Linked DNA regions of Homo sapiens: region 2 is linked to region 1. The links come from fine-mapping of genetic effects on gene expression. A gene starts in region 1. The other region holds a variant in brackets. All regions are shown on one strand. Distances are from middle to middle. Region 1 holds the start of PRKCA (protein kinase C alpha). Region 2 has its middle 20 kb from the start of CACNG5.

What was found. PIP is the estimated chance that this variant, and not a neighbour inherited with it, causes the effect.
Region 2: its variant is fine-mapped to the expression of PRKCA in whole blood (INTERVAL, PIP 0.91).

Annotation. Positions count from the first base shown.
Region 1 is chr17:66,299,749-66,305,123 of GRCh38, forward strand. It overlaps PRKCA (protein kinase C alpha), which reads left to right and starts at 2,865. Exons shown (of 17, transcript NM_002737.3): 1 at 2,865-3,276. The coding sequence starts at 3,104. RefSeq lists an enhancer at 3,659-4,160.
Region 2 is chr17:66,812,749-66,818,123 of GRCh38, forward strand. No RefSeq gene overlaps it. Among named protein-coding and RNA genes, the nearest start is that of CACNG5, 20 kb to the right of the region's middle. The variant G/A (reference allele first, on the strand shown) is at 2,775.

The DNA.
Region 1 (5,375 bases):
TGCCTGCTTACGCATTTCGGCAGTTGCCTTGCCTCTCCTAAACCTTGAATATGGTGCATAGAATAAAATATAAGCCTTAAGTCATCTTGGTTACCATAAATCTCAGAATGATGCTTTTTCGATACTTATGCAATTCCTATTGCCCAATTTGAAAATGTCCTGGTTCATTTGAAAACAGTCCAGTTAGCTGCATAGAGCAGCAAGCTGTAAATTGTATCTGAAAGACCGCTGGCTTCAAACCATTGGGATTCTGAGTCATCTGTTTGGTGGTCTGACTTTGATCCCAGCCTCCAGCCTCTGGGTCCCCCTGGTCTAGGTGACACCTCTCCAAACAGTGTTGAGCTTACTCCTCAAAGGCAGAGGACAGAAGCGGATTCTGAAAAACTCTGCGTTCAGTCTGACATTCCCTGTTCTTTTCCCGCACCTTCCCCATGAAATAGCAGACTCGAAAATAAAATTTACTCATGCCCTCATGACTGACTGACTACCCCCAACCCAGGGGGTTCTCCCGTCCTTAATCTCCTCCATTTTAGTTATACCATGGGGACTTCAGGTAGGCTGCAGGAGTAGATGCTGGCCCACATTTCCATCAGTCCTTGCTAGGGACAGTGTTACACTGCTTGGTAATTGATAAATCCCCACTCTGGGTGCACAGTCCCCTCTCCCCAACTGAGCTAAGATGTGGGCTATTGATGCTTTCATGCCCAGCCCAACCATGAATCAGTTGACTTCCAGTCAATCATTCCTCCTCGTACCCACCAGGAACAACACTAACAACTGAGGCAAGAATGCAAAGCCACAACCTAAAAGAAAACAGACACATTGTTCCATCTGATCTACTGACAGCTAAGACAGTCACTCCATGGAGTACACAGGAGATTCGCAGGCTGCTGCCAGGGCTCATTCTGTTCTTGTCTTTCCTATGACTTTACTCAGGATTCCATTATCAGCAACTTCACCCTCCAGCTCTCTCCATCCTCCTATGAAAGCCTCAGGGACATAGAAATAAGCTTGTCTTTGTAAAATGTGCCAGGATCTCCGTCTTAGATAAAAGACGACTATGAGAAAAGAAATTATTTCATTCCACTATGTTCCATTTGATTTCTGCTTTCAAGCAATAAACCACCATGGCTTGAGATGCTTCTAGTGTTTCATGGAGAATTGGGACTATTTCCCCAACATGCCCTGCTCTTCATTCCTCTTTGCTTCTTCCCTTTTTGACTCCTTGGACCCGAGGGGCGACCATGAGTGGCGAAATTTCTGACCAGCTAGAATACCAGGCAGGTGCAGGCTCTTGAAGCACCAAGACTGGCTCAAGAGATTGTAAATGGATCAGTCAAGTGCATGCACCACTGACGGCCAGTCAGGAGAGCTTCCATTTGTTAAAAATATAAAGGACATTCCTATCATCAAGCATCACAATTAGGCAATCTCAAAGAAAACAATATTAGCTCTACTTGGCCTATGTTACATGCTCTAAGAAAGTATTTTAGAAAAGTTTTTTTTTTCAACATAAATTTATTGAAGGATCAAACGTGTTCTCTTTCTTGGTCTCTTTAGCTCGTAAAGTCGTTTTGGGGATTTCGTGAATCTGGCAAATAAAACAAAACACCAATGAAACGCTGAGAAATGATTATTTCCCTTATGTATTTTAGCGGCCTCCAGGCAGACCTGATAAATATTCAGCGAGTGATTAGCTGGTGCATCCCCACCTGCGTCCTTTGCATAGCCATGCCCGCTACTCTTTCACAGGCAGTTTTACTTGGTAAGTTACAAACGTACTGGCTGCACTCTGCACCTGACAGTATTGCAGTAATTAGCTTGGGATGCAAAATGATTTCTAAATTAAGGTCCTGGACTTGTAAAATCAAGAAAGCCTGATAATCAACATCGTCGCTCTGGTGGCCATTGAATAACGGGATAAATACCTAAGACAAGTCCTTTAACCATCCCACGTGGTGATAAATGCCCGACGTACAAATTAAAAGTCTCTACCACACGCAGGTGAAATAAGGTATAGGTCAAGAAGAGAAGGTAGGGGAAAGGGTCAATGCTTAATTATTTAAAAATCGCTCTCTTCCTCCTGTAGGAAGGTCTAGGGGCTAGGTCTTTTAGTGCACACGTGATGAAAGTGACATTTTGGCCAGGTGAAACCTCAAGCTGGTACAGGCAGCTAAAACACGGGCGTCGTGCCCTGGAGACACCGGGGGTCCTGAGGATGGGGAAGGGGCTCCCTGCTGCGGGTGCTGAGGGGTTAGGAGGTGAGCACCGGGCGGGAGGCTCCGGGGCAGGGGCTGCGCGTGGAGCCCACTCCCGGACGCGGGCTCCTCTCGGCCCGGCACGGGTGGCGCAGGACTCCGAGCCCGTCGACAAGAGAGAGAGCGGGAGTGGGAGAAGGAAGACCGGGAGAGGAGGAGGCCGGGCGGCAAGAGCGGAAGAAGAGGAGGAGAACTGAGGCGGAGGAGGGCGAGAGGGAGGAGAGCCGGGCGCAGGAAGGGGAGGAAAGAAAAAGGCGGCGGAGGAGCGCGGACCCGCCACTCCCGGCCTCCTCCCCCGCATCCCCACTCGGGCCGGCCCTCCCCCGGCCGCCGCCGCCGCCGCCGCCGCCGCCGCCGCCGCCGCCGCCGCCTCCCCTTGCCCAGTGTTCCCAGCACCGCAAGGCACTCGCTGCCTCCTCCGCACTCGGTCCGGTCCGCTCAGCGCCGCCGCCGCCGCACCCTCGCCGCACCCCCGCGCGCGCCCGGCCCGCGCGCCCCCGCCGCTCGTCCTCGCGGCCTCGCGCTCGGGGCATGCGCGGTGGGCGGTGCCGCTCCGGGCCGCCTCTGCCGCCGCGAGTAGGAAGCGCGAGCGCCGGGCACCGGGCTGTCAGTGAGCCTGGGGCCAGCGGGCGAGCCAGCGGCTCCGGCTCCCGCTCCCGCTCCGCGCAGCACCAGCCCGACTCTCCCCGGCCCCCGCCGCGCCCCCTCGCCGCGACCTCGGCCACCGGCCCGCGCCCCGCGCCCGGGGTCGCCCCGAGCCCGCACCTCTCCCCCGCCGCCCCCGCCCACCCGGCCCTCCGCGGCCGCAGCTCCCCGGCGGAGGCAAGAGGTGGTTGGGGGGGACCATGGCTGACGTTTTCCCGGGCAACGACTCCACGGCGTCTCAGGACGTGGCCAACCGCTTCGCCCGCAAAGGGGCGCTGAGGCAGAAGAACGTGCACGAGGTGAAGGACCACAAATTCATCGCGCGCTTCTTCAAGCAGCCCACCTTCTGCAGCCACTGCACCGACTTCATCTGGTAGGTGCCGGGCCGGGCACTCCTGCCCCGCTCCTCCCCGCCTCCGGGTCCCGGCACCCGGCGCTCCGGCGCGTCCGCCCCGGGGCTGGCTCACTCCGATAACTTGGAACCGGCGGGAGTCCGAACTCTTCGCCCGGAGTGACACGCGCGCCCGGCCCTGACACCGGCGGGCAGGACTCCCGGGACGTCGCCGTCCCGCCACACACACCCCCTGGCGCGAGAGGGAGGCTGGCCCCGTACGGTGGCGAAGGGGATCCCTCTCCGGGCCGGGCCCCTCACCTCCCCGGGCGCGCCCACCCGCACGCACCCAGCGGAGCGGCCGCTTGCCGGGGTGTGAGCCCAGGGGACAGGGGAGGAGGAGAGGCCCTAAGGGGGCAAAGGTTCCCGGAGAAACGCGCCCCGGAGTAACGGGGGAGCGGCGGCGATTGCACTGCGCGCGGTCCAAGTTGCTGGCGAGCCAGGCTGGGCGCGTTCGGGGTGGGGGGGTTGTGTTTGTGCTTCCCATCGGGCTGGACTGCGCTGGCATCTTGGGCCCCTGCCTACTGTAGGCTGCATCTACTGGGCACGGAGAGACTGACTTTTCTGAGTGAGCAGAGAGAGAGAGAGCAAACTGTTGAAAGCTTGCAGTGGGGGAGGGGGAGTTCTAGCAGGCAAATGGCACAAGGGCAGAGGGACTCATTTAAAATAGACCCTGTCGGCCAGGCGCGGTGGCTCACGCCTGTAATCCCAGCACTTTGGGAGGCCGAGGCAGGCGGATCACCTAAGGTCAGTAGTTCGAGACCAGCCTGGCAAACATGGTGAAACCCCGTCTACTAAAAATACAAAATTAGCCGGGCGTGGTGGCACACGCCTGTAATCCCAGCTACTCGGGAGGCTGAGACGGGAGACTCGCTTGAACCCGGGAGGCGGAGGCTGCAGTGAGCCGAGATCGGGCCACTGCACTCCAGCCTGGGTGAGACAGAGCGAGATTCCGTCTCAAAAAAAATGAAACAGACCCTGTCAACTCGAGATTAGACCTGTAACCCTGTTGATGAGGGCAGAGGCCTTATTTAAGAAAAATAATATAAGGGCCAGAGGTCAGAGATCAGGTAATCGCCAATGAATTCAGGCATTCTTAACTCGGAGGGTCCCTGGGGGCTTATGGAGAATCGATACATAGAAGGGCTTCAGGGGTCTCTGAACCCTGTAAAACTGAGGGAAATTGTGTTTGTGAATCTTTTTCCTGGTGAGAGAATTACAGCTTTCATCTGATCCTCAAAAGGTGTGTGACCCTTCTTCCCAGATCCCCGTCACCACACAAAAGTTTTGAAAGCTGGAACTAAAGGAGCTCTAGGTCCTCTAGTTAGAGCAGCAGTAGTTTGGTTTTTCTTTTAAGTTGCCCGACGTCCTGACTCTTCTACCTCTTCTTTGTGGTGTAGGAAGTTCCGGGCAAGACAGAGCTATGGCTAGGGCTTCTTAGCTCCCTCTCCTTCTAGGCCAGGGGGAGCTGCACAGGGTGGCAGTCACGGAGTGAATCCTGCCACCAGCCAGCTGTGTGGCACAGGTATCTTGGGCCACTAGGGTGAGCATAGTATGGATGGCTCTGTCGGAATCCATCACACCTGGGGAAAAACATCCCAAAGGGCAGGTCCCATGATCGTGGTGCGAATAAGGTGTTTAATTTTTCCTTTCCTTTTTAGACATCTGCTCCCAAGTACACTTTTATGAAAAGCACAGCCACCTCTATGAGTGATTTCCACTGTCTAGTCGGCATATGAAGCGACTGTGCTCAAAGGAGTAGGTAGTCGTAGATAAGGCTATTTAAAATAAAAATTTCGGAGCATCAGGGCAAAGAGAATATTGCATTTGGTTAAGAGGAGGTCAGCTGTGAGAGTCCATTAAAAGGGAACAGACTGCTGGTGACTTTTGCAGGAAGTAGGAGAGTTAGAAAGGGACTTGCAGCATACTGAGGCTAGCTATTGTCTTTCCACTATCAGTTGCCCTTGAAGGATCAGCCCCTGGTGAGCTGAAGAGGCGCTCAGGTCACCACCAGTATTGTGAAGTGGAAAATGCCCCCCTGAGGATCCCTGCAGCACTCTGCATTTAATTGTAAACCAACC
Region 2 (5,375 bases), 510 kb after region 1:
ATCTCCCCTGTTCTTTCTCTCTGGCCTCCTTGACCCTCATGGCCCTCTCTGCTCAGCAGCCAGCAGGACCTTGCCTGAGCAGGCCCCTTCCCTGTTGAAAGCCCTCTGTGGCTCCCATCACCCAGCCTTCCTCATGGCCTTTCATCCTCACATGCCCAGCTCTGGGACCAAGGATTCAATGGTTGGGGAGAGTGAGTTCTCTCTCTCTCTGTCTCTGTCTCTCTCTCTCTCTCTCTCTCTCTCTCTGTGTGTGTGTGTGTGTGTGTGTATACGCACACCCTTTCCCATGAGAATAGAAGCTCTAAGAGGAGCCGGCTTGTCCATCCTGTTTGCTGCTACATCCCAGTGCCTAGAGCAGAGCCTGGTAGATAATAGGAGCTCAAAATGTTCATTGAATGACTGAGTCAATTAATCGTTCCCAAAACTGCTCTGAGCCTAGCAACGTGTTCCAGACACCCTTACTGGGCCATGGGATTTGCCCTGGAGGTGTTCACACACTAATGAAGTAGATAAGATATACAAAAAAGAACTAATTAAAGATCATCTCTCAAACTCATGATGAGCTTCAGCCTAGGAAACACCAGTTCTCAACCTCTGTCCTTCAGCCCAGAATCTAGAGGCGATGGCTGCCTATGGTTACACTTGAGTGATTATTTAACTCCCTGAGCTTCCCCCCTGCCCCTGGCTTATTGTGTGCTCTGGGGATGAAATTATGGTTCAGCTAAAATGCTAATGCACACGGGCAAAGGCCAAGGCCATCTATTTTCACACTCTGTCCCCATCCTGGGAGTGCACATCACAGAGAGCAGGGCATTGCCTGCAGGGAGTGGGTGAGAAGTGCTTTTGGCTCTAAGAAAGCAGAACTGGATGTCTCCCCAAGATTCTTTTTTTAACAAAGCTAATTCAATAAATACATTGCAAAGAGGCCTATTCTAGCCATAAGGGGAGAAAGTGGAAAATGGTTCTAGTGAAATGAAAGAGCTAGTGGTGGGCTCAGGGACTCAACAGACAGGTGGAAATGGCACAAACCAAAAGTCTAAAGGGGGCTGTAAATGGGAACGCGCAAACTGTGCACGCACACACACACGAACACACATGCATACAGAGATGCACACACACACATGCACACAGACACGCAAACACACGCATGCACACAGACACATGTGCACACACAGAGGCACACACACTGATTGATTACCAGAAGTGTACCAGGCACTCTTCTAAGTTCTTTATGTGCATTTATTTCAATCCCACAATGACAGCCCCTGCCCCCAGATAGGTGCTGTTTACTGTGCCCATTTTACAGAAGAAGAAAGGGAATTCCAGGGAACTTAAATAACAACACATAGGTGAACAACACCAGACAAATGGAGCCAACCGAAAGAGCAGAGATGTGAGCACGCCAGATGCCTTCCTGGGGGAGGAGGCAGGGAGGCTGAGGTCTGATGGAAAGGCTGGAAAGGAGAGGTCCCAAACAAGCAGACACCAGCACGCAGGGAGGAGGGGAAGGGCTGGCATGCGCGCAGTGCCTAGCTTGTCATCTGAACACACCCATCTCATTTAATCCTCATGACACCTCCATGGGCTGGAGGCCATTGTTCACATCTCACAGATGGAGAAACTGAACCCCAAAGTAATTAACCAGCTTCCAGATACGCAACTCCTAAGCAGCACAGCCAGGCTGGGCACTGAGTCTGATCTTCCTAGCCTTGTCCCATGAGAGGGTCAGATGTAGCATTGGGTAGGGAGCTTCAGGGCCAGACCCTGTTGGGGAACTTCTCCCCCCACTGTGGTTTCATTCAAAGTCCATCCTATTACCAAGGGGGATGTTCCTTGCCCTTAGCTGACTCTGATGCCTATGAGACTAGATGCCCTCCTGGAACTGTTTCCAGAAGGCTTTCTTCCACCATCACCCTCCTTCTCTCGACATTTTTTTTTTTTTTGGAGCTGTCTGGGCGTGGGAGGAGAGAGAAAAATAGCATCACAGTTCTCAGAACACAGCAGGTGCCTCTGCAGCCGCCCTCACCTGACTGACTTGCCTGGAAGGCCCAGGAGGAAGGAGGAAGCGGGCAGGAACGGCTGGTGGGCCCCAGGCTCCCCCTCCCACCACAGGACAGCCCTACATTGAGACCCCAGCTCCACCTACCCCAGGAGTCAAAAACAATCCAAGGCAAGCATCATCCAGTGAGCAGAACAACTTGTGAGAAATCACTGATTTCTTGGGGGCACTGGGCAGCCCGGGGAGGAAAGGTTGGGCTTGGTTAGGTCAGAATACTGTGGGAATGCTTCTGGGTTTTTGGAAAATTTACAAAAAATAACACCTGCTTATTGTAGCTAATACAGATGAGGAAAAGAAAATCCCAACTTCCCAAGATGGTTAAACTTTTTGATTCCTTGCTAACTTTATTTATTATTCATCATCTTGTTATCTTTTCAAGACTGTACCATGGTATTAGCCTGTTTTCACGCTGCTGATAGAGACATACACGAGACTGAGTAATTTACAAAGAAAAAGAGGTTTAATGGACTCACAGTTCCACGTGGCTGGGGGTGGGGTGCTCACAATCATGATAGAAGGCGAAAGGCATGTCTTACATGACGGCAGACAAGAGAGAATGAGAATCAACTGAAAGGGATAACCTTGATAAAACCATCAGATCTCACGAGACTTATTCACTGCCACGAGAATAGTATGGGGGAAACCGCCTCCATGATTCTATTATCTCCCACTGAGTCCCTCCCACAACACATGGGAATTATGGGAGCTACAATTC[G/A]AGATGAGATTTGGGTGGGGACACAGACAAACCATATCAACCTCAAAGCCCTCTTATGAGACTCCACTGGGCCTTGACATTGGTCACTGAAAGCTAGGATCACAGATGTTAACACACACATCCTTTAAACATTTTGTTATGACTTTTTTTTTTTTTGAGGCGGAGTTTCACTTTGTTGCCCAGGCTGGAGTGCAGTGGTGTGATCTTGGCTCACTGCAACCTCCACCCCCCGAGTTCAAGCAATTATCCTGCCTCAACCTCCCGAGTAGCTGCGACTACAGGTTTGCATCATCATGCCCGGCTAATTTTTGTATTTTTAGCAGAGGCGGGTTTTCACTATGTTGGCCAGGCTGGTCTCGAACTCCTGACCTTGTGATCCACCCGCCTCAGCCTCCCAAAGTGCTGGGATTACAGGTGTGAGCCACCGTGCCTGGCCTTTATTGTAACTTAAAAGCCAATAAATGCATGACCATTCAGTAAGGGTGGGGACTTCTCTCTGAGCAGGGAATTTCTTTCTTGCATTAACTATACCCATAATACTTGTCTTACAGTTTCCAGTTAGGGTTTATTCGAAGAGAAGCCAGATATTCACAAAGAAAGCTGAATGCAAAGTCCATTTAGATTGTTGCAATATTTCTTAATCTTTTACAGTTGCCTTGCCCACAACTGTCTCTGTAGCTGTTTTTAAAAACTCGTTATTCTTTTTCTTAAACATTCCATTTTGTGTTCACTGAAACAACTCTATGCTTTGCACTTGTATTTCATTGGTTTATGTGGAATTTGATTAATTACTTAACTACAAAGCAACGTAGCAGACATTCAATGTTTTGGGAATGAAATTGACATTTTCTTACTAATTCCCCTATTGTTGGAATTTTAGGTTTTCCTGGTTTTTAAATTATTTTGAAAACTCATTGTTGAACACCTTTGTTCCCAAAATTTTGAATGCATTTTAGATTATATCTTCCACTGGATTCCTGGAAATACAATAGCTGAACTTTTTTTTTTTTTTTTTTTTTTGAGACGGAGTCTCACTCTGTCGTCCAGGCTGGAGTGCAGTGGTGCGATCCTGGCTCACTGCAAGCTCTGCCATTCTCCTGCCTCAGCCTTCCGAGTAGCTGGGACTACAGGCGCCCGCCACCACGCCCGGCTAACTTTTTATATTTTTAGTAGAGACGGGGTTTCACCGTGTTAGTCAGGATGATCTCGATCTCCTGACCTCGTGATCCACCCACGTCGGCCTCCCAAAGTGCTGGGATTACAGGCGTGAGCCACTGCACCCGGCCAATAGCTGAACATTTTTTAGACTCTTGGTACTTCTTATTTCCTGTTTTTCTTCTTGAACCCTGTTTTCTTTTCTTTTCTTTTTTTTTTAGATGAAGTCTCTCTCTGTCACCCAGGCTGGAGTGCAGTGATGCAGTCTCAGCTCACTGAAGCCTTCGTCTCCTGGGTTTAAACAATCCTTCTGTCCCAGCCTTCCAAGTAGCTGGGACTACAGGCATGCACCACCACGCCTGGCTAATTTTTGTCTTTTTCTGGTAGAGTCAAGATTTCATCATGTTGGCCAGAGGCTGGTCTCAAACTCCTGACTTCAAGTGATCTGCCTGCCTCGGCCTCCCAAAGTGCTGGGATTACAGGCATGAGCCACCACACCTGGCCAAAGCCTTGTTTTCTATGGTGACATTTTCTTGCTCTCAGATCAAGTAGTAACGAGTGTTTCTTTTCAATGTCATGCTGTTCTTAGTTGGTTTGTTATCAAGTGCCTTCATTCGGTCAACAAATATTTATGTGAGCTTTAAACTCTGCACCAGGGGTTCAGTGACTACCAGGGCTCATAGCCAGGAGTGTTTTTGATTTTTGCCTCTTTTTATAGATTTTTAAGTGGCTTTCAAGTAAAAGACTTCAAGTGAATAATGAAATAAGAGTACATCAGGACGAAGGTCAATACAAATATCTTGCCATGATTTGGATATGGTTTGTTTGTCCCCACCGAAACTCATGATGAAATTTGATCTCCATTATGGCAGTGTTGGGAGGTGGGGCCTATGGGAGGTATGTGGGTCATGGGAGTGGATTTCTCATGAATAGGCTAATGTCCTCCCTTAGGGGTGAGTGAGTTCTCACTCTCAAGGGAAAGGATATTCCATGAAGAGTGGGTTGTTAAAAATAGTCTGAGTCTGACTTCGTTGATTTTGCTCTCTTGCGTCCTCTCTTACCAAGTGATCTCTTTGCACATGCCAGCTCCCCTTCCACTTTCAACTCCCCCGCCATGAGTTGAACCAGTCTGAGTCCCTCACCAGATGCATATGCCAAATCTTGAACTTTCTAGACACCAGAATTATAAGCCAAATTGCTTCTTTATAAACTACTCAGTCTCAGGTGTTCTGTTATAGCAACACAAAATGGATAAAGACAGAAAACTGGTACCAAGAGTGGGGTGTTGCTATAAAGATACCTGAAAATGTGGAAGTGGCTTTTGGAACAGGATAATGAGCAGAGGTTAGAAGAGTTTGAAGGAACAGGCATTAAAGAGATTGCATTGCTTGGAGTGGAGCATTAAGGACAATTCTGGTGAGGGCTTAGAAGATAAGCTGGAACTTC